Linked DNA regions of Homo sapiens. The protein of the gene in region 1 binds, or shares a complex with, the protein of each later gene. Each region holds a gene or a part of one and is shown in the gene's direction. Other genes may lie near its edges.

What was found. Proteins that work in one complex are often made in the same cells at the same time.
Region 2: FLCN (region 1) and LAMTOR3 share a complex: the UniProt entries of both Homo sapiens proteins name them as parts of the lysosomal folliculin complex.

What each region holds. Positions count from the first base shown.
Region 1 is NC_000017.11:17,212,851-17,216,764, reverse strand, and holds part of FLCN (folliculin), read left to right. Parts: intron 1-261; coding exon 262-385; intron 386-1,448; coding exon 1,449-1,580; intron 1,581-1,674; coding exon 1,675-1,780; intron 1,781-2,908; coding exon 2,909-3,110; 3' UTR 3,111-3,914. UniProt on the Homo sapiens protein: Multi-functional protein, involved in both the cellular response to amino acid availability and in the regulation of glycolysis.
Region 2 is NC_000004.12:99,877,836-99,881,131, reverse strand, and holds the end of LAMTOR3 (ragulator complex protein LAMTOR3), read left to right. Parts: 3' UTR 1-2,796; downstream 2,797-3,296. UniProt on the Homo sapiens protein: As part of the Ragulator complex it is involved in amino acid sensing and activation of mTORC1, a signaling complex promoting cell growth in response to growth factors, energy levels, and amino acids.

The sequences.
Region 1 (3,914 bases):
TTAATATGAGTTAACACCACAGAGCGAGGGGCGGTACAAGCTGGTGTGTGACTGGCGGTCCAGACAAGAGTTAGGGACCTGGTGGTGGAGGACCCTCCCCCCTCACCCCCACTGTGGGCTGAGAGTCTGGGGACTCCTCTGGCAGGAGGGAGGGCTTGGACCGGGCTGCAGGAGGCGTGTGGGGTTTGGGTAGTAGAGCATGGATGGCCGGGGCTGAGGGCTTCCTCGTGTCCTTGGTCTGAGTCCTGCTGTCCTCCTCAGACCATGCTTCCCGTGGGCTGCGTCCGCATCATCCCATACAGCAGCCAGTACGAGGAGGCCTATCGGTGCAACTTCCTGGGGCTCAGCCCGCACGTGCAGATCCCCCCCCACGTGCTCTCCTCAGGTGCGTGCCCCCGCGGGCTGTGGGGCCATGCCCTGCGCTGAGGTTCCCCACGCCTCAGGCCCAAAGTGGAACCAGATCTCTGTCATGGGTTGTGGAGAGGAGGCCTCATTGCAGGGCCAGCTTCCCCCATGGCTCTGGGCCTCCGTGTTCTATCTTCACACAGGTAGCGGTGGGTGAGTGGACCTGATGGGAAGGTTGGCTGGCAGGGACTGTCGTCAGTGGGCTGCAGGTCACCATCGTGGGGTGGGAGGATGTGTCCCTGGCCGGAGGATCCTGGTCGTCCTGGTGATTGGGTGCCTATGAGATGGAGGCCTGCTGAATGCTGGGTGTGAGCTGCCTGCTTCTGTGGGCCCTGCCATCCTCTCCTCACTCTTCTACTGTTCCCCTGTCCTGACTTCTGCTCTCCTCCAGCCTTTTTCTTCACCTCATGTGCCCGAGGTCTTCCCGGCCTTCACTGGTGTGGTCAGGGCTCAGCAAACCCCTGGTCTTTTGGTTTGGGGATGTCCAGGGATCAGCCCCCCAGGCTCATCAGTGACTTCCCCCAGCACAGCGGTGACCAGCAGCTGCTGACTCATGGTCCGAGTGGAGCTACCCTGAGCCCCCAATCAGCACCCAGGCTGGGTCCTGACTCCCTGCGAGGCAGTGCCTTTTTTCCGGGTAGCATTGGAAACACAGGCTCTGGTTTCAAACAGACTTCAAATTCTTACCACTACGAGCAGGTTATTTAACGTCTCCAGGCCTGTTTCCCCATCTGTAGAATAGGGTCATGGTGAGACCACCCTCATAGGGCTGCTTAGCCAGAGGTAAATTGATGTATATAAAGTACTTTGTGATTATTGTAATATAATAAATTATTAGTTTAACTGAGGCAAAAGTTAACCCTTAACTATTCACGAATAACCTGAAAGGTTTTAAATACCAAAGCATTGATTTGGGCCAGTCTTTTCACCAGCAGCCTTCCCCACTGACCTGGGATGAGCGGAGTGGGGCCCACGGTGGGCTAGCGCAGGGGAGGTGAGGAGCATGGGGGAGATGAGGAGCCACGGGCCTTGTGTTGTTACAGAGTTTGCTGTCATCGTGGAGGTCCACGCAGCCGCACGTTCCACCCTCCACCCTGTGGGGTGTGAGGATGACCAGTCTCTCAGCAAGTACGAGTTTGTGGTGACCAGTGGGAGCCCTGTAGCTGCAGACCGAGGTGGGTGCCCCCAGGCAGAGTGTCCTTTTTGTGAGAAGATGCCCCCGCCCCGCGCTAACGCCTGCCCTTGCTCTGCCCCTGCCCTTCTCCCCAGTGGGCCCCACCATCCTGAATAAGATTGAAGCGGCTCTGACCAACCAGAACCTGTCTGTGGATGTGGTGGACCAGTGCCTCGTCTGCCTCAAGGAGGAGTGGATGAAGTAAGCAACAGTGTGGGTGAGGCCCCTTTGCTTGCGACCCTGGAGAAAACCTGGAGCTGTTTCCAAAAGAGGAGCTGGGCCGTGGCCACTGAGGGAGGAGCCGAGAGAAGAGGTTGGGGGCGGGGTTCCAACTCCACGTCCGCCACTGCAAAGCTCAGGTGGCCTCGGGAGGCGGTCATCATGTCTGCCTCCGGCTCCTGCATGGGGAGGTGGGGGTGGCGCCTGCCTTGGAGAGCGACTGAGGCTTGGGCAAGGGCTCCAAGCTCACAGGAGGGTTCATAATGGAAGCTCTGTCATCTGCTGTGCAATTAACTTCAAAACCTAAAAGCCCAGTAACCCATGCCCCACCCCGCTTTTTATTTTATTTTATTTTTATTTTTTATTTTTTTTGAGTCAGAGTTTGGCTCTTGTTGCCCAGGCTGGAGTGCAATGGCATGATCTTGGCTCACCACAACCTCCGCCTCCCGGGTTCAAGCGATTCTTCTGCCTCAGCCTCTGGAGTAGCTGGGATTACAGGCACCCACCACCATGCCTGGCTAATATTTGTATTTTTAGTAGAGACAGGGTTTTAGCATGTTGGCCAGGCTGGTCTTGAACTCCTGACTTCGTGATCCGCCCACCTTGGCCTCCCAAAGTGCTGGGATTACAGGCGTGAGCCACTGCACCTGGCCCCCCGGGTTTTTTTTTTTGTAAGCAAATTTACTTTATTTCCTCCTGCCTCGATTCTTGGTAATTTTTTGGGTCAAATTTATTAATCAAACATTGTCCTGATTTAAAATCATGCAGTGAAGCTTAGGAGCAACCAGTGTCTTCCACGAGTTTAAGGAAGGTTTTTCTTTCTTCTTGGCGTCTTGACAACAGCTTGAGGGAGGGTGTGGGAAGCGCACAGGCCCCATACCCATACCCGACAGAGGGCCGAGCCCAGCCCCGACAGCTTCCCTTCCTTGCTGGGACACAGCTCCTTTCAGCAGTTCAGGGGCCAAGCCTGCTGCCCCAAGGGTGTGGATTCCAGCTCTGCCTGCACAGCTCCTGCTGGTGCCAAAGCCGTGTCACCCCTGGTTGGCCCCGTGACCAGGGCTCGAGGGATTGTGCTGTGGTGTCTGAGTGTTTTGTTTTGGTTTTCTTCAGCAAAGTGAAGGTGCTTTTTAAGTTCACCAAGGTGGACAGTCGACCCAAAGAGGACACACAGAAGCTGCTGAGCATCCTGGGTGCGTCCGAGGAGGACAATGTCAAGCTGCTGAAGTTCTGGATGACTGGCCTGAGCAAGACCTACAAGTCACACCTCATGTCCACGGTCCGCAGCCCCACAGCCTCGGAGTCTCGGAACTGACCCGTCACACACACCTGCCTAAAGACAGGGATGGCTGTCCACAGGATCCTCCAGCCCCGTGAGAGGGACTGTCCCTTGAGTTTCTCAACTGCTGGAAGGAGCTGTGTCCCAGCAAGGAAGGGAAACCATCAGGGCTGGGCTCGGCCCTGTCAGGTTTGGGGCCTGTGTGCTTCCCAGACTCTCCCTCCAGCCGTTGGAATCGCTGAAGATGGCAATGAAAGGCGGAGGGATGATGGGCTCTCTCTGTGTTCAAACTCCTTGGAGAGACGACTAGGAGGACAGCTTGCCTCCCAGGCCCCTTGTGGACTTAGACTCAAAACCCGCAGGAGAAACAGGTCCGACTCAGTATGCAGTCGCAATAACATGTCTGCTCCCGAGGTTAACATTCAAGCGTTTCTACTTTGAAATTCAGCAAGAGTTTCTGGGCCTTATGTTTGAGGGTACCTTTTGCTGCAGTTGTGAATATTCAGTACATTGCCAGCTCTTGGTCACTGAGTGATTGAGTTAGGGCTCCGCAAGAGACTTTGGGGAGTGAAGTGGATCTCTTCCTCATCTTTTGGTCCTCTGAAATGTGTGTTCTGAAGCCATGGGGCTCGTCTTCTGGGGTGTTCCCCTGCAGGTGCTGGTGAAGGTAACCTGGGGCTTAATGATGGAGTCCCTGATCATTTTTGCACAAGACAGGTTGCTGAGGGGTCGGCAAGCATCTGACTTGCCCAATCCCCTGGATATGGTGAGCCCCGCCATGCTTTTATTCTGTATCGCTTTTGTCTTTATTGCTGCTTTCAACATTTACGTTTGGTTACA
Region 2 (3,296 bases), on another chromosome or scaffold:
CAGCCACATGAATAAATAATGAGTGTTTCTTGTAGGTATTGGTTTGGAGATTGTTTTACGGTAGTATGAACTGTTAACTGGAAAAGAAACCTGAGATTGCAGTCAGCCAAGATTGTGCCACTGCACCCCAGCCTGGGCAACAGAGACTCCGTCTCAAAAACAAAAAAGAAAAGAAACCAAGAAACCTCAGGCATGAACCTAATTTAATCTCCATGAAAGAGGTACTACAGTTCTAGAATATACCCTTTATGTTCAGGAATGCAGTCTATCATTCAGAGTTAATTTCTTTCTAGGCTCTTTGACAATCAGTTTTTCCCTGGATCAGTTCAGTACATATGCATTGAGCACCTGTGTGCCAGTCAGCCGAGCTATCACATTGCACAATTCTAAGAAGCACCATTCATGTCTCATCATATTTCTATGCTCTGGGAGTTGCCTTTCACATAGAATATGTGTGATTGTTATCCCTAGAATTGTGCAGTGAGGCAATTGGCTAGGTGCTGTGCTGCTTTTTCTTTCTTTCTTTTTTTTTTTAAGAGACAGAGTCTTGCTGTGTTGCCCAGTCTGGAGTGCAGTGGTGGCATGATCTTGCCTCACTGTAACCTCTGCCTCCTGGGTTCAAGCTGTTCTCATGCCCCATTCTCCCTTGTAGCTGGGATTACAGGCTTACACCATCGCACTTGGCAAATTTGTGTATTTTTAGTAGAGACAGGAATTCACCATGTTGGCCAGGCTGGTCTTGAACTCCTGACTTAAAGTGATCCACCTGCTTTGGCCTCCCAAAATGCTAGGATTATAGGTGTGAGCCACTGCACCGGGCCATGTGCTACTTTTTCTTCCTTCCATCCTTCCTCCCTTCTTCAGTGTAAATATGAGATTAATTTGTGATACCTTACTTTAAAGAACTTAGAGTTCAGTAAAGGAAGCAGGTATAGAAAGTGCTATGATAAAGCTATACATAGGATGGTATAGAACCACAGACTAGGGGCACTTAAAATGGGCAAGAAAATAGCCTTTGTAAATAAAATAGAGGCAAGAGATATAATGCTTTACCTGCAAAGAGCTATAAATACAGCCATGTACCATATAATGATGTTTCAGTTAGTGAAGGACCACATACGAGGGTGGTCAGAACAGCAGGCTATACCATATAGCCTAGGTGTGTAGTAGGCTATACCATATAGCCTAGGTGTGTAGTAGTAGGCTATACCATATAGCCTAGGTGTGTAGTAGTAGGCGATACCATATAGCCTAGGTGTGTAGTAGTAGGCTATACCATATAGCCTAGGTGTATAGTAGTAGGCTATACCATATAGCCTAGGTGTGTAGTAGGCTATACCATATAGCCTAGGTATGTAGTAGTAGGCTATACCATATAGCCTAGGTGTGTAGTAGTAGGCTATACCATCTGGGGTTCCTGTCAGTACAGTATGATGTTCACATAATGATGAAATCACCTAACAAAGCATGTCTCGAAATGTATCCACATTGTTACGTAACACATGACTGTAGTTAATTGTTACAATTGAAATACTAGATGTACTCATTGAAATCCAGAATTCCCATTATCTGGATTATTTAATATCGTTCAGGAAATTTTTGCCAGTGCAATGGTGCATGAAACAATGTCTTTTAGAAATGAGGTGGCCAGATTTCTATTTGCAGATAATAATTGTATATCTAAAAATCCTAGAAAAAGAAATGATAACAAATGGAGCTACTTAACCTTTACATGTTGAATGCTGCCACTGTTAAAATTTCTGAGGGGGTATAATAGATAAACTATCCCATAGTTCATCTGGAAAAATAAGGTGGTGAAAATTGCTAAGAAATTTTTGAAAGGGTAATGTAAACCTAGATTAACTGTTTTTGAAAGGTAGTACAGAACTGAATGCACAACTAGATATCAATGGTATGTACTCACCCAGAAAAAAGACTTCAGTACATACATGTGAGGGCTTAAAACATTGTTATAAAGACGGGATCACAATGGGAAAAGGATTATTCAATAAGTAGGGCAGGCATTCTCTATGCCTGCTAGGGAAGTGTGACTTGTTATACTCTTTATGTACAGCAATTGGCAGTCTGTGAAACTTTTAAATTCATATACATAACCTTTTGCCCTGCAATTCCACTTCTAGAAATTTATCCTACCAAACAAAGCACATAGATGTGCAAAAGTATGTATTTACAAGTATATTCTTTGCAACTTGGTAATGTCAAAGAATTGGAAGCAACCTAAATATCTGCCATAGGTAGGATAACCATATGCTTTGGCTTTTTGAACACTACCAGTTTATACCTGCTGTTCTTGGATAATTATTAATAGTGCTTTCATTCTCAATGTCTCACTTTAGATAATAAATTACAGAGGATTGGTGAAACTAATTTGCCCAATGGAAAAAGGAATGAAGAAGTGCTTTAGGTACTGAGATGAAAAGATCTCTAAGGCATAATAATGTTTATTGAGAAAAGCATGGTGTCAAACTGTATGGCATGCTACAATTGATGTATAAGAAGAAAAAATGTGTATGTATTCCTATTTGTTTGTATATGGTAGACTGTCTCTGAAGACATATATGGAAGAACCTGATCACATTGGTAGTCTCCAAGGAGCAGAACTAGATACCTGGGGGATAAGGATCCCAGGAGTGAGCCTTTTCATTGTAAACTTCATTGTACTTTGAGTTTTTAACTGTTCAAAAATAATAAAATTAGAAATAAAATATTTCAACAAACAATAAAATGGGATATTTGGGGAAGAAAGTTGTCTCAGGGCTCTCCAAAGAAGCAGAACCGGTTGGACATATGTGTATTTATTTCAAGGAAATGGCTTATACTATTGCGGGGACTGGCAAGTCTAACATCTGTTGGACGGGCCAGAAGACTGAAAAGTCTCAGGTAGGAGCTGAGGCTGCAGTTTCAGAGCAGAAGTTCGTCCTCTTGGAAACTTCAGTTTTGCTCTTAAAGCCTTTCAGTTGATTGGATGAGTCTCACCCACATTATGGAGGATTATCTCTTTTACTTAAATTTAAGGGATTATAAATGTTAAGTACATCTCCAGAATACATCCACAGCAGTACCTGGATTCATGTTTTAATAACTAGGCAATGTGTCCTAGCCAAGTTGATGCATAAAACTAACGTTCACAGTCCATTCCTAGTCAGCTTGGCACCTGTATGCATCTTTTTTGTTGTTTTTTGTTTTGTGAGACAGAGTCTCACTCTGTCACTTAGGCTTGAGTGCTGTGGCCTGATCTCAGCTCACTGCAACCTCTGCCTCCTGGGTTAAAGCGA